Homo sapiens: one gene and its partners. The protein of the gene in region 2 purifies or fractionates together with the protein of the main gene of each other region. This does not show direct contact. Each region holds a gene or a part of one and is shown on either strand. Other genes may lie near its edges.

The links.
Region 1: the proteins of FGFRL1 (region 2) and BACH1 purify together in Homo sapiens (affinity purification with mass spectrometry; one large-scale study listed by BioGRID and IntAct). This does not show direct contact.
Region 3: the proteins of FGFRL1 (region 2) and AP3B1 purify together in Homo sapiens (affinity purification with mass spectrometry; one large-scale study listed by BioGRID and IntAct). This does not show direct contact.
Region 4: the proteins of FGFRL1 (region 2) and FLG2 purify together in Homo sapiens (affinity purification with mass spectrometry; one large-scale study listed by BioGRID and IntAct). This does not show direct contact.
Region 5: the proteins of FGFRL1 (region 2) and ANGEL1 purify together in Homo sapiens (affinity purification with mass spectrometry; one large-scale study listed by BioGRID and IntAct). This does not show direct contact.
Region 6: the proteins of FGFRL1 (region 2) and LRP2 purify together in Homo sapiens (affinity purification with mass spectrometry; one large-scale study listed by BioGRID and IntAct). This does not show direct contact.
Region 7: the proteins of FGFRL1 (region 2) and ANKRD17 purify together in Homo sapiens (affinity purification with mass spectrometry; one large-scale study listed by BioGRID and IntAct). This does not show direct contact.

What each region holds. Positions count from the first base shown.
Region 1 is NC_000021.9:29,336,922-29,340,421, forward strand, and holds part of BACH1 (transcription regulator protein BACH1), read left to right. Parts: intron 1-3,500. UniProt on the Homo sapiens protein: Transcriptional regulator that acts as a repressor or activator, depending on the context. Binds to NF-E2 DNA binding sites. Plays important roles in coordinating transcription activation and repression by MAFK.
Region 2 is NC_000004.12:1,021,626-1,024,511, forward strand, and holds part of FGFRL1 (fibroblast growth factor receptor-like 1 precursor), read left to right. Parts: intron 1-577; coding exon 578-850; intron 851-2,015; coding exon 2,016-2,096; intron 2,097-2,191; coding exon 2,192-2,476; intron 2,477-2,685; coding exon 2,686-2,886. UniProt on the Homo sapiens protein: Has a negative effect on cell proliferation.
Region 3 is NC_000005.10:78,284,699-78,288,198, forward strand, and holds part of AP3B1 (AP-3 complex subunit beta-1), read right to left. Parts: intron 1-3,500. UniProt on the Homo sapiens protein: Subunit of non-clathrin- and clathrin-associated adaptor protein complex 3 (AP-3) that plays a role in protein sorting in the late-Golgi/trans-Golgi network (TGN) and/or endosomes.
Region 4 is NC_000001.11:152,353,507-152,357,006, reverse strand, and holds part of FLG2 (filaggrin-2), read left to right. Parts: coding exon 1-3,500. UniProt on the Homo sapiens protein: Essential for normal cell-cell adhesion in the cornified cell layers. Important for proper integrity and mechanical strength of the stratum corneum of the epidermis.
Region 5 is NC_000014.9:76,802,883-76,806,382, reverse strand, and holds part of ANGEL1 (protein angel homolog 1), read left to right. Parts: intron 1-1,380; coding exon of another isoform or gene 1,381-1,498; intron 1,499-1,967; coding exon of another isoform or gene 1,968-2,008; intron 2,009-2,470; coding exon 2,471-2,597; intron 2,598-2,901; coding exon 2,902-3,012; intron 3,013-3,500.
Region 6 is NC_000002.12:169,240,535-169,244,034, reverse strand, and holds part of LRP2 (low-density lipoprotein receptor-related protein 2 precursor), read left to right. Parts: intron 1-512; coding exon 513-632; intron 633-962; coding exon 963-1,079; intron 1,080-2,669; coding exon 2,670-3,047; intron 3,048-3,500. UniProt on the Homo sapiens protein: Multiligand endocytic receptor. Acts together with CUBN to mediate endocytosis of high-density lipoproteins. Mediates receptor-mediated uptake of polybasic drugs such as aprotinin, aminoglycosides and polymyxin B.
Region 7 is NC_000004.12:73,091,299-73,094,798, reverse strand, and holds part of ANKRD17 (ankyrin repeat domain-containing protein 17), read left to right. Parts: intron 1-570; coding exon 571-720; intron 721-2,498; coding exon 2,499-3,500.

The DNA of each region.
Region 1 (3,500 bases), on a different chromosome or scaffold from region 2:
TCAGCCTCCCAAAGTGCTGGGATTACAGACATGAGCCACCATGCCTGGCCTTTTCTTGTTTTCTCTTTTCCCTCCCTCCCACTCTTTGGAATCACAGTGGACTCATGGATTAATTTTTTCTGATTCAATTTGTTAGGATAAGTAATAGTCATTATTCTTTTTGATGTTGACATTTTTCAAATTTGGCCTGGGAGAGCCCGTTCAAGCCAGCTCCTGTCCTGTTGACATAACCATCTAGCACTTGCCATGGTCTCACTTTTTAACCTCTATTGTTTCAAGATTTGGAATCACCCATTTCTTTAAAACTCCTGGTTTCTTCTAGCAGTTATATTGGACTTTGGAAAGCCTACCTGCTGCTGGAGTATTATTCCTTCTGGGCCTTTTTCAGTGGACAGAGCTAGGAAATATATGCATCTGTGTATAAAATAAAGTTCATTATATCATGAATTCATATATATCAGGCTTCAGTAAATGAAAGTAAAAAGTACATTAGAAATCCTGAGTTTATGTAGTATTTCCAGTCCAAATTTAGCAGTATAGAGCTTTTGTCTTCACTTCTGTGTTTATGTTTAATCTCTCATCATTTACAGGAAAAATTTTGGCTCCAATTACATTAGTGTATTGTTTCCTTTATAATATACAGTAAGTTCTCACTTAACATGAAATGATGGATAATGAAACCAGTTTTTTTCCTCATCAACTTTATAATGAAAGGATGTTGTAAAAATGAGAACACTTGGACACAGGGTGGGGAACATCACACACCGGGGCCTGTCGTCGGGTGGGGGAGTGGGGAGGGATAGCATTAGGAGATATACCTAATGTGCCGGGTGCGGTGGCTCAGGAGTTCGAGGCTAGCCTGGCCAACATGGTGGTGCAAACCTGTAATCCCAGCTACTCGGGAGGCTGAGGCAGGAGAATCGCTTGAACCTGGGAGGTGGAGGTTGCGGTGAGCTGAGATCATGCCATTGCACTCCAGCCTGGGCTACAAGAGCGAAACTCCGTCTTAAAACAAAAACAAAAACAAAAACAAAAACAAAAAAAACGAGTTAATGGGTGCAGCACACTAACATGGCACATGTATACATATGTAACAAACCTGCACGTTGTGCACATGTACCCTAGAACTTAAAGTATAATATAAATAAACAATAAAATAAAAAAGAAAGGATGTGGAACAAAATGTTTATTGAGGACCTGGTGTGCGTTGTTTCTCTTAAAGTCAGTTTCCAAAAACCTGTCGATGATTTTAAGTGAGGGCACACTGTATAAAAAGTAAGAAAATTAGACAATCAGTATTACTATTAACAGTAAACAAATTGAGCAGAATTTGAGATTTATTTGCTTTTTTATGCTTAAATATTTCCCAGTGTGAAGCTTTAAAGTTATTTGAAATATTTGTGTTACCAATTTGGCATACAATTAATTTTTTTTTCTATTTATATTACTGGGATTTACTCTACATTTTTTGAGACAGGGTTTCACTCTGTCACCCAGGCTAGAGTGCAGTGGCACAGTCATGACTCACTGCAGCCTTGACTTCTTGGGATCAAGCAAATCCTCTCATATCAGCCTTCTGAGTAGCCAGGACTACAGGTGCGCACCACCATGCCCGGGTAATTTTTTTGTGAAGGTGAGGTTTCGCTGTGTTGCCCAGGCTCCTCTCAAAACTCCTGGGCTCAATCGATCCTCCTGCCTTGGCCTCCCAAAGTGCTGAGATTTTAGGCATGAGCCACCATGCCTGGCCTACATTTTTAATTTGTTTTATTTTGAATGTAAAACGTTTATATGGTTCAAACATTAAAACTATATTTTAAAAAATATATACTCCAAATCTTGATCTCATCTTCTCCTTATACCCTATTCATAGCTACTTCCTATAGGTAACCATTTTCATTAGTTTCTGGATTTTTTTTTCCCTGTGTTTCTTTTCTAAAAATGTGTTAACATTTTATGTCTACTCTTATTATCCATCCTGCTGCATGGAAGTATTTTATATACATTTTTCTGTACTTTTTAAACTTAAGAATTGATTTATAGGAAATATTTTTTCTTAGTTCAGAGAGGTTGTCATTCGTTTTCCAGCTCCATAGTACTCAGTAGTGACTGTAATACAGTTCAAACCAGTCTTCTGTGGGTGGACAGTTGGGATCCTGCAGTGAATAACTGTATACTGTTTCATGTTTAAGGAGCTGTGTCTCTAGGACACATTCCTAGAAGTGGGATTGTTGGATCAAGGGTAAATACATACATAATTTTATTAGATATTAACAGATTCCCCTCCTTAGGAATTGTCATATTTGGCCTTCCAGCAGCAGTATATGTGTGTGTGTCTGTCCACACCCTCAGTCAAGATTTGTTGTCAGCTTTTGGGTTTTTTCCAGTCTGATAGTGAGATACCATGATATCTCGTGGTAGCTTTTATTTTTATCTTATGAGTGAAAATGAGCATTTTTGCTTATATTTCTCAGTGCCATTTGCAGATTTCTCTGAACTGCCGTTCAGAGGTTTTACTTACTAAGGAACTATTAGTGACCATTTTCTAACAGTGAGTACTCTTTACCCTATCATAAAATTGTCACTTGTACTTTTGGTGCCAAATTCTTCTATATCTTTATTGGGTGAGTTATATTTATGATCTTTAAAAAAATTATATTTGAATAAATATTGTGCACTAGCTATTCAAAATAAGGATTTAGATGCAAAGGTTTTTTTTTTTTTTTTTTTTTGAGACAGAGTCTTGCTCTGTCACCCAGGCTGGAGTGCAGCGGCACAATCTCGGCTCACCGCAACCTCCGTCTCCCAGGCTCAAGTGATTCCCCTGCCTCAGCCTGCCCTTTTAGCTAGGTTTACAGGTGTGTGCCACCATGCCCAGCTAATTTTTTTGTATTTTTATTAGAGACAGGGTTTCACCATGTTGGCTAAGCTGGTCTCGAACTCCTGACCTCACATGACCCGCCCACCTCAGCCTCCCAAAGTGCTGGGATTACAGGCGTGAGCCACTGTGCCCAGCCTGTAAAGATTTTTTGTTGGTATAAAATCCAGAATGGTACCAGAATGCCAATTTTATTCCTTTTTAAGAAATAGCTCTAATTAAAGGTGCAGCACTTCAAACGTGATTTATACAGTTGTTTTTATAGGAAAATGGAAATATATTGTAGGGATAGGTAGCAGGACACTAATAGTGAGTCCCACTCATGACTGTAAGTAGTGACTTTGGGAGGTATCTTAAATACTGATGTCATTAAGTAATTAACTTGAATTACTTGTATTTTACTTTTAGTTATTAAGCTGACTGCTATTATAGTAAATATGTGTCTTAAACTTAGAGTGAAATGGAAACTGCTTAGAAGCTTAGCTGTGTAGGAGTTAAAGTGCAGGGGAACAGATGGGAACATTTAATTTATAGAAATAATTCTGGTGGAGTTCTAGGGCTGTGCCTATTTGTTTTAGTTGTTGTGAAGAAGCAAGCCATCTTGTATACTTAAAGAATGATGTCA
Region 2 (2,886 bases):
CGTGCTCGGTTGCTTGTGGATAGCTGTGGGGTCGCTGGCCCATGCCCAGGCCCGGCTGGGCCCTGGGCTGATGGTTGGGTGGGAATTAGGTGAGGGGCCTGGGGCCTCTTTGGGACCCACCAGGCCCCCCATCCCCCTACTGCCCTTGTCCTTGGGGGGCCACTGTCCCCTCTGACCTCGGGTGTACGGCTGCTTCCTGTATGACCAGAAGGAGACTCTGCCCTTTTGGTTGGTGGTTTTCGAGAGTTACCAAGCGCAGCTGTTTTGCATCCTCTGGGGACCCTGCTCCCTTCTCGTGTCTCAAAGAGCCAGCCTCTGGGGCCACGGGGCTGCCCCGGCCATGAGAGGCTGCTGACGTGGTGTTTGCTGGGCCAGTGCTCAGGGCTTTGGTGCATGTGGGCAGCTGAGGCCTGGGTCAGGGGCACTGCACCTCGGCCCCTCTGCTCATCTTGGGCAGGTGACCCAGGTGGAGCTCAGGCCCGAGGTCTGTGCTGGGCCGTGGGTCCCCTTTTGACCGCCCCCCCGGCTCCGGACCCCAAGCCCCTCCTCGCTGACTGTTCCTCGGTCCCACCCGCAGGCCCCCCAAAGATGGCGGACAAGGTGGTCCCACGGCAGGTGGCCCGGCTGGGCCGCACTGTGCGGCTGCAGTGCCCAGTGGAGGGGGACCCGCCGCCGCTGACCATGTGGACCAAGGATGGCCGCACCATCCACAGCGGCTGGAGCCGCTTCCGCGTGCTGCCGCAGGGGCTGAAGGTGAAGCAGGTGGAGCGGGAGGATGCCGGCGTGTACGTGTGCAAGGCCACCAACGGCTTCGGCAGCCTGAGCGTCAACTACACCCTCGTCGTGCTGGGTTAGTCGCTGCTGCGGTCAGAGGTCATGGGCTGGGTTGGAGCCAGGCAGGGGTGTGCAGGAGGGCGGACGGGGACACACCTGGGGCCCGAGAGTCAGCCAGCCCCCGGCAGAAAGCCTTCCTTCGGTGCCCTGCCCCACCTCAGCTGGCTGCACCTCTGCCACCATCCCCCAGGTATCCTGTCCCGTTCCTGTCCCCGTCAGGCTCCAGCCTCGGAGCCTTCCTCCCAGCGGAGGGCGGAGGGTGGAGGGCGGGAGCCGAAGGCAGTGGTCCCACAGAAGGGCTGGGGCCCGAGGCCTTGGCAGGGTGTGCCGGCCGTCGGCTGTGACTTTGAGGCTCGGGTTTCGGAGTTCAGAGGAGCCGCCGGGATGCGTGGCCTTTCTGTTCTCTTCTGCGCCTGGGGCCCGGGCGCTGGGCTTGGACAGGTGTCCAGAGAGACACGCCCTCCATACCTAGGGACCCGGCACCCCGCCTGCTCCGCTGGGCTCCTGGGTGTGGGGCCCTCGGGTGGAGCTCCTGGGAGCTGGGCTGGCCCGTTTCTTTTTTTTTTTTAATTCTACTTTAAGTTTTAGGGTACATGTGCCCGTTTTCTGAATACAGGAGCCTGGCCCAGGCCCCAGCAGGGTCTGGGGGTGCGGCCTGAGACAGCCTGGTCCTGGGCTCAGTGAAGGAGCGGCTGTCACAGGGTGGATGGAGGGGACATTCCACAGCACGCCCTGCCCCTCGGCATTGTGTGGAATGGGAAAACTGGCTGTCCCCCACCCCCACCCCACAGTCCTTTCAAAGGGGACGATGACCGGGTGGTATGAGAGTCTCGTCTGTTCACCAGCCCTCGGCCCCTTGATGTAGGCTAGGGTTACTGCAGCTGCTGGCCGGGCCCGGCTCCCTCCTCCCCCGGGGCCTGCAGACCCCCCGGAGCCAGAATGGGGGCCGGCCCTCCAGCCCCACCCGTGCCCATCAGGGTCACCTGCGCCCAGTGTGGGCCAGCGGCCCTTGCCCAGCTGTCCCTGGGATTCTGGGCTGTGGGTGTGTGGCGCAGCCCCCTGCCTGGGTGTCCAGGGCTGTCCCGGCTGGGGCTGGGGGAGCTAGAGGCCACGGGGGAGTTGGGGGAGCTCCTCAGGGCCCCCCTCACCTGCCCTCCCTGTGCACCTCCGTCTCTCTGCAGATGACATTAGCCCAGGGAAGGAGAGCCTGGGGCCCGACAGCTCCTCTGGGGGTCAAGAGGACCCCGCCAGCCAGCAGTGGGGTGAGCAGGGGGTGACGGGGGTGGGGGGCGTCCGTCTGTCCCGGCCCCTTGGCTGCATCCCCGTCCTCTGACCTCCACGCCACCCCACCCCGCAGCACGACCGCGCTTCACACAGCCCTCCAAGATGAGGCGCCGGGTGATCGCACGGCCCGTGGGTAGCTCCGTGCGGCTCAAGTGCGTGGCCAGCGGGCACCCTCGGCCCGACATCACGTGGATGAAGGACGACCAGGCCTTGACGCGCCCAGAGGCCGCTGAGCCCAGGAAGAAGAAGTGGACACTGAGCCTGAAGAACCTGCGGCCGGAGGACAGCGGCAAATACACCTGCCGCGTGTCGAACCGCGCGGGCGCCATCAACGCCACCTACAAGGTGGATGTGATCCGTGAGTGTGGCCCCGGGCGCTGGCGGGCGGGGGGTGCTGGTGGGCGGGGGCGCTGGCGGGCGGGGGTGCTGGTGGGCGGGGGCGCTGGTGGGCGGGGGCACTGGCAGGGCTTGGGGGTGGTGGGCTGGGGGTGCTGGTGGGCCCAGGGTGCTGGCGGGGTAGAGTCCGGCGCGGCCCAGGAGCCATGCCCGCGTGCCACGTTCCCACAGAGCGGACCCGTTCCAAGCCCGTGCTCACAGGCACGCACCCCGTGAACACGACGGTGGACTTCGGGGGGACCACGTCCTTCCAGTGCAAGGTGCGCAGCGACGTGAAGCCGGTGATCCAGTGGCTGAAGCGCGTGGAGTACGGCGCCGAGGGCCGCCACAACTCCACCATCGATGTGGGCGGCCAGAAGTTTGTGGTGCTGC
Region 3 (3,500 bases), on a different chromosome or scaffold from region 2:
CTTCTGGATATTGAAATTAGGGTTGTTATTTTTCAGCTAACCTGTATCTGTAAGTTTTCTAGAAGAAAAAGGGGATATCAGCAATTCTCCAGCAATTTTCCTTCTCTCTAATGCATCATCTATTTTCTCTCCTCTACATCAGTTGGTTCCATCAGCAAACAAGATAATACAGTTTCTCCTACCTTAAGGAAAAATTCCTTGACATAACATTCCTCTCCAAGTGCTGCTCCATTTCTCTGCTCTTCTATACTTAAAAATATACTAATGGCCAGGCGCGGTGGCCCACGCCTGTAAATCCCAGCATTTTGGGAGGCCGAGGTGGGCAGATCATGAGGTCAGGAGATGGAGACCATCCCGGCTAACACGGTGAAACCCCGTCTCTACTAAAAATACAAAAAAAATTAGCTGGGCGTGGTGGAGGGCGCCTGTAGTCCCAGCTACTCGGGAGGCTGAGGCAGGAGAATGGCGTGAACCCGGGAGGCGGAGCTTGCAGTGAGTCGAGATCACGCCACTGCACTCCAGCCTGGGCGACAGAGCAAGACTCTGTCTCAAAAAAAAAAAAAAATACTAACCACAATTCTTCTTCTTCCTTCTCTCTTGAGCCCACTCATGAGGCTTTCAGCCCCACCAGTGCACCTAAACTGCTTGTCACGGTCACCAAAGTCCACCCAGTGACAAATCCAAAACTCCCTTCTCAGTAATCATCTTACTTGACCTATTTGTATTATTTGACACAATTACTCCAGGAATGTCCCAGGACTGACTGACTCTGACCTTTTTCTACACTCACTTCCTCAGTGTCTCATCCAATCCCATGATACCTGATGACTCCCAAATTTATACTTCTAGCCTGACTCCTCCTCTAAGCTCCACACTCTGATATCCAACTGCCTATTTAGTATCTCCACATGGATGCCTAATCGCATCTCAAACTTAACATGCACAAGCTCTTGGTCCCTTTCCCCCTTTAAAAAAAAATTCCTCTTTGCACAATATTCTTCATTTTAGTTGACAGCTATTCCAAACTTCGAGCTGTGTAGGCAAAAAACTTTGTATCCACCCTTGATATCTTTTCTCCCACACACATATCACATCCAAACTATCAGCAAATCTCATTGGCTCTACCTTTCAAATATATCCATAACTCACCCACTTCTCTCCACTACCACCAATCGGATCACCTTCTCTTGCCTGAATTACTGTAATAGTCTCCTTGCTGGTCCTTGCCTCAAATCTGCAGTCCACTCCTAGTTCAAGAGGCAAAATGTCCCTTTAAAGGGTAAACAATCATTTCACCCCTCTGCTCAAAACTCTCCAAATGGCATCCCTTCTCACTCAGAGTAAAATCAAAGACCTTAACAATGATTTTACAAGGCCCTACACAATCAGGTCTCCGCCTTCCACTCTGCCCCTTATCTCTCTGCCCTCATATTTTACTAATTAATTTCCCCCACATCCTTCTTGACCACATTCTCAACCTAGGCTTTAAAAACTTGCAGAAAACCCATTCCAAGAATAAAGTTGGGTGATGCCTAGCTCTGCCAACCTATGATTTTGGAACCACCCTACTATGGTTTCAATGTGTCCTCTCCAAAATTCAGATGTTCAAACTTAATGGCCAATATGATAGCATTAAGAGGTGGGGCCTTTAAGATTTAGTCATGAGGGCTCCTCCCTTCATGAATGAGATTAAGGCCCTTGCAAAAGAGGCTTCACAGTCTTCCATTCTCTTGCCCTTCCACCTTCTGCCCAGTAAGGACACAGCATTACTCCCCTCCAGAGGATGCGGCAACAACAGACCATCTTAGAAGCAAAGAGCAGCCCTCACCAGGAAACTAAACCTGCCTGTGACTCAATCTTGGACTTCCTGGCCTCCAAAAATGTGAGAAATAAAATTATATTCTTTAGAAATTACCCAGTCTCAGGTTTTTTGTTATAGCAGCATAAAACAAACTGAGACAGGGCCTTATTCATTCTTCTCTCATTTGTCCAGCTACCATGCCAACTCACTCAGCTGAATTAAAGACAGTGGACTTCTAATTAGGCTGGTTCCTATCAGCAATATAAATAATCAGTCCATCAATAAACAGATATTGGCTATAAACTGTTCACTTTTGTAGATCTATTAAGTCTTTCCAGCTGATAGGCTAAATAAGCCTTCTCTAAATACACGAACCAACGTTATTCATAATAATATGAAATAGAGGAAAATCATTTCCTTCTTGATTATTCTACTTTAAGCTCTTCATTTTAAATTTTGAATTTGGACTGCAGGCAATTTGTTTTTGTCAGTAGTTCATTTATATACACAAGTGAAATACTGTCAAATTATTTCACTGTAATACATTTGTCATTCTATGAGCATTTATAACTTTTCATGCAGCAAAAAAGAACATTTCAACCAACCATCTGTCTGCCTTTTTCATGTGCTTTAATCATTCAGCTCTGGTAATGTTGCTCCAAATACTAAATTTTTTTTAAATAACATAAAATCTCACATCTTATGATTTAATGGTAAGGCTTGAAATTTAATTTTCAGATTTTTCTCCTCAAATTTTACCAGATCAGTGATTTTAAAAATAACATATCCTACTGTCAAGAAAGAATATTTTCTTGAATATTTATTAAGACAAAATGTAGAAGTCAGAACCAACTCTCCTTCAAGGAGATATGCAAGCAAAGCAAAATAAGATAAAAGGTTTTATAATCTGTTGGAAAGTAAGACTCTGTTTACAGGCAGTATTTCATCAAATTTCTATTCAATGTAGTAAAATCTTATTTAATTTGAAATATATTTCAAGAATTAAATCATAAATGGAACCCTACTGCACCACTGAAATGACAATCCTTAATTTGAATAGTTGGCCCTTTGTAAAACTTACGATCTTATTTTTATGAAGACAAAAACAACTAGTTCAGCTGCTAGGAATGCACTGCAGATGCTAGTATACAGTTTCTTCTTTTATTTTTAGTCACCTTGGAACAAATGCTGAAATTTAGTGAAAAATCAATAAAATACTAAAATTTCCTAATAACTTAATGTACCCCTTGTAAAAAAAAAAAAAAAAAAGTAGGATCCAGTTTACATATGTAGCAAGCAAATATGTTAACAGCTCTAGTACCAGATCTAATGACCATAAATTTCAATTAGCTAAACATAATAAACAAGACAGATCAGTTATCAAACCTGGAATTATTAGAACACAAGAGATTTAAATCTTCATAACTAAAGATGATCAGATGTATAACAGTATGCTGACAAAATCATGACTGAAGCATATTTTCATAGCAGCAACCCTGAACTCCTGAGCACAAGAGAAAGGAATTCACAATGAGGAAGGAGCCCGTGCCTCTTCATGTCATGCTTATGACTCAGGGCACCAACACTTCAACGTCTCAAACTAAAATGTCCTTAACATTTCAAAATTCCAGCATTTCCATTTTCTTCAGTAAATCACTGTTTACACAAACAAAGGCTTATAACAAATAATTTTCAATAG
Region 4 (3,500 bases), on a different chromosome or scaffold from region 2:
ACAAAAGCTTGGGTCTAGCTGTTCAGGTTCAGGAGACAGTGGGAGGCGAAGTCATGCATGTGGTTATAGCAATTCAAGTGGGTGTGGAAGGCCACAAAATGCTTCAAGTTCTTGTCAGTCACATAGATTTGGAGGGCAAGGAAATCAATTTAGCTATATTCAGTCAGGCTGTCAGTCAGGAATTAAGGGAGGACAAGGCCATGGCTGTGTCTCAGGAGGTCAGCCCTCTGGATGTGGTCAACCTGAGTCTAACCCCTGTAGTCAGTCCTATAGTCAGAGAGGATATGGAGCTAGAGAAAATGGTCAACCACAGAACTGTGGAGGACAATGGAGAACAGGCTCAAGTCAGTCCTCTTGCTGTGGACAATATGGGTCTGGAGGTAGCCAGTCTTGTAGTAATGGTCAACATGAATATGGTTCCTGTGGCCGCTTTTCAAACTCTTCTAGTTCAAATGAATTTTCCAAATGTGATCAATATGGGTCTGGTTCAAGTCAGTCTACTAGCTTTGAACAACATGGAACAGGCTTGAGTCAGTCCTCTGGGTTCGAACAACATGTATGTGGCTCAGGTCAAACTTGTGGCCAGCATGAGTCTACATCAAGTCAATCCTTGGGCTATGACCAGCATGGGTCTAGCTCAGGTAAGACATCTGGCTTTGGACAACATGGGTCTGGCTCAGGTCAGTCCTCTGGCTTTGGACAATGTGGGTCAGGCTCAGGTCAGTCCTCTGGCTTTGGACAGCATGGGTCTGTCTCAGGACAATCCTCTGGTTTTGGACAGCATGGGTCTGTCTCAGGACAATCCTCTGGTTTTGGACAACATGAGTCTAGATCACGTCAGTCTAGCTATGGCCAACATGGTTCTGGCTCAAGTCAATCATCTGGCTATGGCCAATATGGGTCTAGAGAGACATCTGGCTTTGGACAACATGGGTTGGGCTCAGGTCAATCCACTGGCTTTGGCCAATATGGATCGGGCTCAGGTCAGTCCTCTGGCTTTGGACAACATGGGTCTGGCTCAGGACAATCCTCTGGCTTTGGACAACATGAGTCTAGATCAGGTCAGTCTAGTTATGGCCAACACAGTTCTGGCTCAAGTCAGTCATCTGGCTATGGCCAACATGGGTCTAGACAGACATCTGGCTTTGGACAACATGGGTCAGGCTCAAGTCAATCCACTGGCTTTGGCCAATATGGATCAGGCTCAGGTCAGTCCTCTGGCTTTGGACAACATGTTTCTGGCTCAGGACAATCCTCTGGTTTTGGACAACATGAGTCTAGATCAGGTCATTCTAGCTATGGCCAACATGGTTTTGGCTCAAGTCAATCATCTGGCTATGGTCAACATGGGTCAAGTTCAGGACAGACATCTGGATTTGGACAACACGAGTTAAGCTCAGGTCAGTCTTCCAGCTTTGGCCAACATGGATCAGGCTCAGGTCAGTCCTCTGGCTTTGGACAACATGGGTCTGGCTCAGGACAATCCTCTGGCTTTGGACAACATGAGTCTAGATCAGGTCAGTCTAGCTATGGCCAACACAGTTCTGGCTCAAGTCAGTCATCTGGCTATGGCCAACATGGGTCTAGACAGACATCTGGCTTTGGACAACATGGGTCAGGCTCAAGTCAATCCACTGGCTTTGGCCAATATGGATCAGGCTCAGGTCAGTCCGCTGGCTTTGGACAACATGGGTCTGGCTCAGGACAATCCTCTGGCTTTGGACAGCATGAGTCTAGATCACATCAGTCCAGCTATGGCCAACATGGTTCTGGCTCAAGTCAATCATCTGGCTATGGTCAACATGGGTCAAGTTCGGGACAGACATCTGGCTTTGGACAACACAGGTCAAGCTCAGGTCAATACTCTGGCTTTGGACAACATGGATCAGGCTCAGGTCAGTCCAGTGGCTTTGGACAACATGGGACTGGCTCAGGACAATACTCTGGTTTTGGACAACATGAGTCTAGATCACATCAGTCTAGCTATGGCCAACATGGTTCTGGCTCAAGTCAGTCATCTGGCTATGGTCAACATGGGTCAAGTTCAGGACAGACTTTTGGATTTGGACAACACAGGTCAGGCTCAGGTCAATCCTCTGGCTTTGGCCAACATGGATCAGGCTCAGGTCAGTCCTCTGGCTTTGGACAACATGAGTCAGGCTCAGGAAAATCCTCTGGCTTTGGACAGCATGAGTCTAGATCAAGTCAGTCTAATTATGGCCAACATGGTTCTGGCTCAAGTCAGTCATCTGGCTATGGTCAACATGGGTCTAGTTCAGGACAGACAACTGGCTTTGGACAACACAGGTCAAGCTCAGGCCAATACTCAGGCTTTGGACAACATGGATCAGGCTCAGATCAGTCCTCTGGCTTTGGACAACATGGGACTGGTTCAGGACAATCCTCTGGTTTTGGACAATATGAGTCTAGATCACGTCAGTCTAGCTATGGCCAACATGGTTCTGGCTCAAGTCAATCATCTGGCTATGGTCAACATGGGTCAAATTCAGGACAGACATCTGGATTTGGACAACACAGGCCAGGCTCAGGTCAGTCCTCTGGCTTTGGCCAATATGGATCGGGCTCAGGTCAGTCTTCTGGCTTTGGACAACATGGGTCAGGCACAGGTAAATCCTCTGGCTTTGCACAGCATGAGTACAGATCAGGTCAGTCTAGCTATGGCCAACATGGTACTGGCTCCAGTCAATCATCTGGCTGTGGCCAACATGAGTCTGGCTCAGGTCCAACCACAAGTTTTGGACAGCATGTGTCTGGCTCAGACAATTTCTCTAGTTCTGGACAACATATATCTGACTCAGGTCAGTCCACTGGATTTGGCCAATATGGTTCAGGCTCAGGTCAATCAACTGGCTTGGGCCAGGGTGAATCTCAACAAGTAGAGTCAGGATCCACAGTTCATGGGAGACAGGAAACTACTCATGGTCAGACAATAAATACCACTAGACATAGCCAGTCTGGTCAAGGACAATCCACACAGACAGGGTCCAGGGTAACTAGAAGACGAAGATCTAGCCAAAGTGAGAACAGTGACAGTGAAGTGCACTCAAAGGTCTCACACAGACATTCAGAACACATTCACACACAAGCTGGATCTCACTACCCAAAGTCAGGATCCACAGTTCGCAGAAGACAAGGAACTACTCATGGACAGAGAGGAGATACCACTAGACATGGCCATTCTGGTCATGGACAGTCTACACAGACAGGTTCCAGAACATCTGGAAGACAGAGATTTAGCCACAGTGATGCCACTGACAGTGAAGTGCACTCAGGGGTCTCACATAGACCACACTCACAAGAACAAACTCACAGCCAAGCTGGATCTCAACATGGAGAGTCAGAATCCACAGTTCATGAGAGACATGAAACTACTTATGGACAGACAGGAGAGGCCACTGGACATGGCCACTCTGGTCATGGACAGTCCACACAGAGAGGGTCCAGGACAACTGGAAGAAGGGGATCTGGCCATAGTGAGT
Region 5 (3,500 bases), on a different chromosome or scaffold from region 2:
CATGGTCTAAGAGAGATTCAGGCGTTAGCATCAGTGCTTCTTCTGTGGCAGGGACCTCAGTACACCTGCTCTGGCCTGCTCCTCCTTTTTCTTGTTATGTTGAATAGCTTGTACCCAAGCCTGGAAGTTAAGAATTCTTGAGTACTTCGGCATATTGGAATTTTTTTCAGTTTTTATCATTAATATTTTTAATTCACAAGTAATACGTAAGTACATACTTGAAGGAACTTAAACATTATACAGTAAGACACAGGCCTGTTTTATTACCCACATTCCCTATTCTATTCTCTTAGAGTAACATAATGACCGTTCTAAGTTTGGTGGTAGTCTTTTAGCTTGTTTTCTTTGCATTTACAGTGATATCTATGTTCCTATGATATTGTAATCAGTGTTTACATTTGTTAAGCACTTAAGTGTGTGCCATGTGCTATTTTAAGCACTTTATACTCATTAACTAATTAGTTTTCACAGTTTCCATCATGGCTTCCATTTTATAAATGAGGAAACTAAAGCTCAGAAAAGTGAAGTAATTTGCCCTAGGTTATGCGGGTAGTTAGTGGTGGAGCCAGGATTTGTAACCAGGTGGTCTGGCTGCAGAGCTCTTACCCTCAAATACTGTGCTGTCATTGCTTATAACAGCCAATATGTAATCTACCATGTGTGTTTTATAAACATGATACACTACTGTATGTTTCATTTGTAGCTTGTTTTTTTTCACTCAGCAATTTGCATATGGATCTCATTCCTTCTAACTGTTGAGTGTTGATGACAAACACCTCGTAGTTTTATCAGCTTGTGCTGATTTCTTTATGTCACTTAATCTCCTTGTTCCTCTATTTTGCCCCTACTGTTTCAATTTATTGACTAACTTTTGGCAAGGCACAATGGTGGAAGGACACAAAACGATTGTATTACTGTTGCGCACATGGGATTTTATGTAAATGAGCCAGATGTGTGCAGAGAAAGGCATGATCTTGCCCTAAAGGAGCTGTAATCAAGGAACTCAGGGAACGAGGAAAAGAATTTACTGACTGCCTGCCACATGACAGGCACTGTTAGGCATAGTGAATGAGAGCACTTGCTTTGAAGCCAGACAGTCCTGAGTTCAGATCCGTGCTCTGCCACCTTGAGCAAATTACTTAACTTTTTTGAACCCCATTTGCCTCATCTATACGATGGGGGATATAATGGGACCTGCCTCAGAGGTGTTTTTTTGGGTGGATTAAATAAAATAATGCGTGTAAAGTGTTTTCCAGTATCTGGCTCAAAGTCAGTAACCGGTAGTGATTATTAAGATTCTTAATTGTACATGGTATTATTATCCCATTTTATTTATTTATTTATTTATTTATTTATTTATTTATTTATTTTTTGAGACAGAGTCTCGCTCTGTTGCCCAGGCTGGAGTGCAATGGCACGATCTCGGCTCACTGCAACCTCTGCCTCCTGGGTTCATGTGATTCTCCTGCCTCAGCCTCCCAAGTAGCTGGGATTACAGGTGTGTGCCACCATGCTCGGCTGATTTTTGTATGTTTAGTAGAGACGGGGTTTCGCCATGTTGGCCAGGCTGGTCTCGAACTCCTGAACTCAGGTGATCCACCTACCTCAGCCTCCCAAAGTGCTAGGATTACAGGCGTGAGCCACTGCGCCTGGCCTATCCCATTTTATAGTAGGAGATATTGAACCCAAGAGAGTTAACTAACTTGCCAAAAGTCACACAGCTATTAAGTGGCCATTGAATTGCAGATCTGTTTTACTTCTGATGACATATTGAAAATTTATGCCCTTACAGGGCAAGGGGATTCTGTCTATTGCTGCTCTATCCCCAGCACCTAGCTAGTGTCTTTTGGCTTTCAAATATTTGTTGTTGTTAAATGGCATAAAGGGACTTTTGCTACACACGTTGGAGATGTGCAGATGACTGATGTTGCCGAATGTTTCCCCTACTACGTTTTGTCCGTTCCCAGGCTGCTCATTGGCTTTGACCGAGGATGGTGACGTAGATACGGTAAAGTGCTTTGGTGCTTTCCCATTTGGTTTGACCCTGTGGTTACCCAGTAATAGGTTCAGGATATTAGACCTTGATCCAGAAGATCCAAAGATGAGGATAAACCTTTAACCATTGCAACTTAAAGCCCCTGAGAGTTGATATTCCCTGTGGAGGAGAATTGTATTGATTTTTCAGAGGTAAAATTTAGGGAACCACATGTTCATACTATTCGATTCCCCTTGATTCAGTCTCTTACCCCTCCTCCTGTTTCATGGACATTTCAGTGTTGCCAGTGAAAAAGTAATGGTTTTAATTTGGTCCTTATTTTTAACCTGCCCCTGAGACTTATATGCTTGTTTATACCATGTACGTAGTGTGTGATTGTATGTGTTTGTATTTGTCCACATGTCCCAAAACATGGGCTGTTACTTCCTTTTTCTATCTTGGTTTCCTTATTCCCACCCTTCTTTTTCCACCCAGGTATCTGGACAGGAAGACTTCTCCCATCAGCTTTACCAGAGGAAGCTGCAGGCCCCACTGTGGCCCAGCTCCCTGGGCATCACTGATTGCTGTCAGTATGTCACCTCCTGTCACCCCAAGAGATCAGGTGAGCACATGTCACATTCTTGGTTGGCTGTGTCTTCATGCCCATTTTGGGAGAAAGCTGGTGTCTCAACGACAAGAAAAAGTGTAATCCCTCATTTCTCTTAGCAGATTCCTCTGTTTTCTCACTATCCTCCCAATGGCTGTCCAATGAAATGGACAACTTTAAATCATAGCCTTTGGAAAATCTCCTTGTCTTCTGAATGCTTCCTCTGTGTACCTATGCTGGAAGTTGCTTGGTACTAAGGAGGTCTCAGCATGTGGCTTCATCGTCTTTCTTTCACTATATGTCTTTTCCTGGTTTACAGAGAGACGCAAGTATGGCCGAGACTTCCTGCTACGTTTCCGCTTCTGCAGCATCGCTTGTCAGCGACCAGTAGGACTGGTCCTTATGGAAGGAGTGACAGATACTAAGCCAGGTAATGGGAACTAATCCCAGTTTCTTGGTCTTCTTTCTTCCTCATTCCTGATATTGGTCAGTTATGTGGTTTCCTGCTCTTTTCTAAGTATAATTCTTAGAGATTAGCTTCTGGTAATACGTATATTTAGAAGGAAGGTTAGTTGAGTTCAGTGGCCATTGCATGGATGTGCAGTGTGATAAGAGTGCCGGACCAGGAATCAAGACACCTGGGTTGTAACTAGCTTTGAGAGCTTGGGTAAGCCATTTAACCTTTTTAAGCTTAAGTTGCTAATGACTAGCATGTGTACAGCATATATAGGGGAGAAGTTACACATGATGGGGCTTTGAAAATCATAAGGTGACAGTGGTTCTGATTTTAATAAAAGTTGTTCCTACTGAGAAATTTCAGATTGAATATAGCAGAGTATACTTGACATTCTCCCCTTCTTGTCTCTGAAACCACTTCAAAGCAACAAGGAGAATGGAAAAAAGAAATGTAAACTCCAT
Region 6 (3,500 bases), on a different chromosome or scaffold from region 2:
GGTGGGGCCAGCCACTGCATCCGACTCCAAGGCTATGGTCTTAACAGTAAGGTAGGACCCTGGTTTTTAGAATTGTTCTGTTCAGACTTTTAAATCCAGTTTTGGGGGTCTGTCTACACACTGTTGCTACTAGGCATGTGGGTCATGCTGGTTTTGTTGCCTGATTGGGCTCCATTGCTTGGCTTTGGTCTAGAGTCATGGACTTCATAGTATTCATGAAATGTAGTCCAAGTCCAAGCACATGATGCTCACTTTCTGAATGTGGTCTATTTTCCAAGGTGTAATCACAGTTTCTGACTCTGCCCTGTAATCTTTTTATTCTCAATTCTAAAACCTATCCTAGTTTTGAGTTCTTTTGCTTAGCTGACTTTGATAGTGTGGCTGATTCAAAAGAATTTTGAACCCATGTACAATTGAGATAACTTCTGTAGCTATTTAGCCATTTTTAGTTTGGCTCTGGTACTTGTTGCACAGGAAATAAACTTGTTGGTTTTGTTTTCGGATGACATTAGATTCGACAGAGACATGCCAACCTAGTCAGTTTAATTGCCCCAATCATCGATGTATTGACCTATCGTTTGTCTGTGATGGTGACAAGGATTGTGTTGATGGATCTGATGAGGTTGGTTGTGGTAAGTGCATTGCCTTCTTTTTTATTCACAATGTTTATTTAGAAAAATCTCAGTGTTAACACATGGACACAGGGAGGGGAACATCACACACCGGGGCCTGTTGGGGGGTGGGGAGCTAGAGAAGGGATGGCATTAGGAGAAATACCTAATGTAGATGATGGGTTGATGGGTGCAGCAAACCACCATGGCACGTGTATACCTATGTAACAAACCTGCATGTTCTGCATATGTACTCCAGAACTTAAAGTATAACAACAAAAAAGAAAAATCTCAGTGTTTAGTCATTTTAGCCCTGAGCTAATTTCTAATGCTTTTCTCTTTCATTCTTAGTATTAAACTGTACTGCTTCTCAATTCAAGTGTGCCAGTGGGGATAAATGTATTGGCGTCACAAATCGTTGTGATGGTGTTTTTGATTGCAGTGACAACTCGGATGAAGCAGGCTGTCGTAAGTAACACATACCCAGAATGTTTCAGACAAAGGGGTCATTTCATTTTTGCCAGTATTGATATTGATATTGCCACACATTTTCCCTAACTCAGACAAACTGGGGGAAAGTATCCTCAAAGGAATGTGGTATTGAACATACAGTAAAATTGAGTAGACATTGCCATATAATGTGTAATTAACAAATCAAGTGGTTGTATAAATGGACACTTCAAATAGTCTCTTAGATGGGCTAAATATTTCTTAGATATTTTTGTTTTCACTTTTAGTTTTTCTTAGGACTTCCCACTTTAGTAGGTTTAAACTTTTGAGGCTCTACTCCATATAAAGATATTTTACTGGTTTCTTTTAAGTTTCAGTAGAGAAGTCATATCATGGTGTAGAAATGGTATGGAGCTGTGTTTAGTATTGACTCTGATGAATTCATTCTTTGTGCTATTATGTGTTGAATATCTGCTAAGATGTTATCTATGGAGATTATAGAAGGCAAGAGACAATTAAGCAAGATAGACAGTTACAAGGGTCTTAGAAATGGCACAGATAAAATTCTATGGAGGTTCAGAGAAAAGAAATTTCTTCTAGTTGGAGGATTCAAGTAGGACTTCATACAGTATAATTCTGATGGATCTATAATCTTCACAGACTGGAAACCTATACTCACATGATTTGTTATTTGCCCACTTTTTGTTTTAAATGGATTTTAGACTTGCAAAAACTCATCAGTGAGTTGATCATTTGTTTGAACAATGGTGTTTTAGACCAAAAAAGTAAGTTTTCATGAATTCTCCTCCTGCGTCAGAAAGGTAGTGTGTAAAGCCATGGATTAAAAAGAAAAGTTAAATAAAATGCTTATATACTTTATAGTTTGCACAACATCTAGAAATTACTAATCACTAATTTTCCTGTTTCACATTAAAAACATAAAATTCTGTGATGAGCTGAGGTTAAACTGTCAATTGCCGCTGGCTTGCTGTTGCCTTGTGAGATCCCTGGTAGAGAGTTTTGGTTTACCCTTGTCAAATAGGGAAGCAGTTCTTACGTATCTCTCCAGGATTGCTTGATGAATAGTGGAAAGTTTGCAAAGAACTGAGTATTTACCATCATCTTTAGTTAGTGTGTGATGGTTTCATTAGGTATAGTTCATCTGAGGGAAAATAATAACACCCAAACATGATATGAAACACATGAAGTTCAAAGTAATCATAGCTATTTAAGCTCTATTGTAATGTTCTGGTGATTCTTTCATAGAAAGATAGATAAACTTTATTATTGAATCTGCAATTGGAAGTACATTAAAAACACAGGAAAAGGAAACAGGATGTTCTTTTGACACAGGTACTCATCTGCTAGTCAGCAGTTGTGCGTTCTGTACTTCGTTTGTTGTCAGAGCCACTAGCTGCCACAAAGAAATATTTCTATGTACTAGAGTGTGGGAGAAGACTCTATATCATTTAGCCTTAAATATTAATTTGGTCATAGTTGTTACTATAAACCTACTATTGGATCCAAAATCATTTCCTCTGAGTCTAGACTATAAAAGGGATCACAAATTACATTCACAAGCCGATTTACCCCATGTTTTCCTTCTAGCAACCAGGCCTCCTGGTATGTGCCACTCAGATGAATTTCAGTGCCAAGAAGATGGTATCTGCATCCCGAACTTCTGGGAATGTGATGGGCATCCAGACTGCCTCTATGGATCTGATGAGCACAATGCCTGTGTCCCCAAGACTTGCCCTTCATCATATTTCCACTGTGACAACGGAAACTGCATCCACAGGGCATGGCTCTGTGATCGGGACAATGACTGCGGGGATATGAGTGATGAGAAGGACTGCCCTACTCAGCCCTTTCGCTGTCCTAGTTGGCAATGGCAGTGTCTTGGCCATAACATCTGTGTGAATCTGAGTGTAGTGTGTGATGGCATCTTTGACTGCCCCAATGGGACAGATGAGTCCCCACTTTGCAGTAAGTTTCCTGACCACAGTTTACTGGCCATAAACTCATTCTGAACAGTAGCCTGGTGTGCATCACCATTGTCACAGTCACTGTGTAGCTTTGTAGGAAGGATTTCAGTTCCTCTATGAGTTCACATCTGTGTAGGGGGTAACCATAATTGAATTCAAATACATCACCATTGGATAATTTTCTGATTAAATCCTTTGTACTTGGTTATGTGTTTTTACTTCTTTTTATGTCTTTGTTTCAAAAAATGAGACTAAATTGAGGCCATTAGATTGTCAAATTAAATTTGGTTCTGTTGGTAATGTGCTCATTAATTTTTCTAACTTTAATATTTTCTAATTTCAATCAGAACTTATCACAAAAAAATGAAGTCCAGGGATTTGTGTTGCTGTGATTAAAGTGCTGTGATTGGCATGTAATCCTAATTACTGTCATTTCTTTCTTTCCTCTTTAATC
Region 7 (3,500 bases), about 72 Mb from region 2:
CTTTCTTGACTCTTGAGGCTAGATTAGATGCCCAACCAGTATATATACACACACACATATAATATATATATATACACATATATACATGTATATATTATACGTATATACATATATATGTCTATATATACATATATGTATATATAATACATTTGTGTGTGTGTACACACATACTATTGCAACACTCATGACATGGTGGTGTTTTCATAATTAGCGTGTAGATAGTCAATATATGTGGGCAGAAACCCATGTCTGTCTTATTTACCGTTAGTATTTGCATTAGCACAGCACGTGTCTACATAGTATGTGCTTTACCGATACAAGTGAAGAATGATAATCAACAAAGCAAACAATCTTTGATAGTGAGATGAGAAGCTATAATAAAGCTTATCTGTCTGTTGCTCCTGATTGCCTTTTCTCTGTTCATCTAGAGTAAGAGTAAATAGAAGAGGCTTATTCAACAATATTCTGTATTTATAGAAAGACATTTTAGTAATACTCTTTCCTCTTTTAAAAATTACAATAACTATTGTTAATGACTAATCTTAATTTATATATACAACTTTTAAACAGGTCAAAGAAAGTATCTGTTCCATCAACTGTGATATCCAGAGTGATTGGAAGAGGAGGCTGTAATATCAATGCTATTCGGGAGTTTACTGGTGCACACATAGATATTGATAAACAGAAAGACAAGACTGGAGACCGGATAATCACTATAAGGCAAAACTTTGTCTCTTACATTTTCTTCCTTTATTTTATTGCACTATAGCTTAATGAAATACAGCCATATGAGTTTTCAGTGGAACTTTGTGTTACATAGTATACTTTTTAAAATGGGAATTTTATTAGTGTTTGAGAAGATAAATTTTATAGTTTTCTTTTTTCCTAGGTAATACACTTTTGTGAAGTGTTTCAGAGACTTTTATAGGAATTTGTATGCATGTGTAGCAAAGGTTTAAATAAATAATTTCTGTACATAAACTGTTTATATGACATTCTTAAAAATTTGTTCTGAGACTTTTAGGGAGCGCATTTCTAACATTTTAAGCAGTGGGTTTTTGTCTTTCTCAAATAACCTTTGAGATTTGTTATTCTGAGATTGTGTCTTTAGAATTTGAGTTCTTGGGCTGGGCACGGTGGCTCACGCCTGTAATCCCAGCACTTTGGGAGGCTGAGGCGGGCGGATCACCTGAGGTCAGGAGTTCGAGACCAGCCTCAACATGGGGAAACCCCGTCTCTACTAAAAATACAAAATTAGCCGGGCATAGTGGTGCATGCTTGTAATCTCAGCTACTCGGGAGGCTGAGGCAGGAGAATTGCTTGAACCTGGGAGGCAGAGGTTGCGGTGAGCCGAGATCGAGCCATTGGACTCCAGCCTGGGCAACAAGAGTGAAACTCCCTCAAAAAAAAAAAAAAAAAAAAGAATTTGAGTTCAGATTTGAATCTGAAGTGAAGATATAACTTATCTTGAATAACTCGTCGAATATGTCTATGCCTGAATATTCTTAAAATAAAAGTGATGTTCTAAGAAATCATAAGAATGTAGGAAGCTATATTTAATTACTTTAAAGTAAATTCATGTTCCTTTGAAAAAGAGTTTTATATTTTTTACATGGCAGATATAAGTTTGTATGAGGCAGATGCCCCTTTGCATTATATAGGAGAGCTAATAGTTACATCATACCTCAAAAATAAGAAAGCAAGTAGCCATCTCTATTTTATTCATCGTCCTCTCCTTCTGACTGGTTTTCCCCTGGGTATTTGGGTAGTCACAGCCTATCTTATCTAGAAAAGAGGGAACCAGATACCCTTTATTGGTAATTGCTCCCTTGAGTTTCCATAAATATCAAATATTTTCCTGAAGATCCAGCACTAAGGTTTTATATGGCTATTTTTGGCACTATCAGGATTCCTGCATCATTTTAAGACATCTTCCCAGAGGAGTTACAATAATTATCCTATTAATAGACAAACTACTAATGAATTTTTAGTAGACGGAGTCATCCCAGATACCAAGATTTAAAATAAAATACTGTTTTCTTACTCAGTTGTATTATTTTCCTTGTTTACTTCTATTATTTTTAGTGTTGATTAACTGTTTCAATATTTTTAGGATTAAATGTTTCAATAACATTGTGGATTACATAGGCTTTTATGTGCAGTGGTTTTTCTAACTGTAGTGTATTTTACAGTAGGAAAATGGTTTCTTAGTCTAAGGAAACAATAGTGAAATGTATTTTTGAAAAATAAGTCATTTACTATTCTTCTGAAAAATAAAAGTAGTAATTCAGGACAGTTTATTGCTTTGTTTGTAGAATACCTCAGGAATGGTAAGAAAATTGCTGCCCAGCTTTTGTTATCTGTCCTTTGTTTGTATGTGTGTATGTATATACACACAAAACTGTGTGTGTGTTTGTGTACATAAATACATATTAAAAACACTTTACATACTCAAAAGTAGGGAAAATTCTACCTAATTTTTTTTTCTCAATTTATAGGGGTGGCACTGAATCAACAAGACAAGCAACTCAATTGATTAATGCTTTGATCAAGGATCCAGACAAAGAAATTGATGAACTTATTCCAAAGAATCGTTTGAAAAGCTCCTCAGCAAATTCCAAAATAGGGTCATCAGCACCTACCACCACTGCTGCTAACACTTCCTTAATGGGAATTAAAATGACAACTGTAGCTCTGTCATCAACATCTCAAACTGCCACAGCACTCACTGTGCCTGCAATTTCTTCTGCATCCACTCACAAAACCATTAAGAACCCAGTGAATAATGTGAGGCCTGGTTTTCCAGTTTCTCTTCCATTAGCATATCCTCCTCCACAGTTTGCACATGCTTTGCTTGCTGCTCAGACTTTCCAGCAGATCCGTCCACCAAGGTTGCCCATGACCCACTTTGGAGGTACTTTTCCACCAGCTCAATCCACTTGGGGTCCGTTTCCTGTCAGGCCTTTGAGCCCTGCCAGAGCTACTAACTCGCCTAAGCCTCACATGGTGCCTCGCCATAGCAATCAGAATAGCAGTGGTTCTCAGGTGAATTCAGCAGGTTCTTTAACTTCAAGCCCAACAACTACAACCAGTTCATCAGCTTCAACGGTGCCTGGTACATCTACAAATGGCAGTCCAAGTTCACCTTCTGTCCGAAGGCAGCTTTTTGTCACAGTTGTGAAGACATCCAATGCCACCACAACAACAGTCACAACCACGGCAAGCAACAACAACACTGCACCCACAAATGCCACATATCCTATGCCTACTGCCAAAGAACACTATCCAGTATCATCCCCATCTTCCCCATCACCACCAGCCCAGCCAGGAGGGGTTTCTAGAAACAGCCCTTTGGATTGTGGATCAGCATCTCCAAATAAAGTGGCATCTTCCTCCGAACAGGAAGCAGGTAGTCCACCAGTAGTAGAAACAACAAACACTAGACCTCCAAACAGCAGCAGTTCTTCTGGGAGTTCATCAGCTCATTCTAATCAGCAACA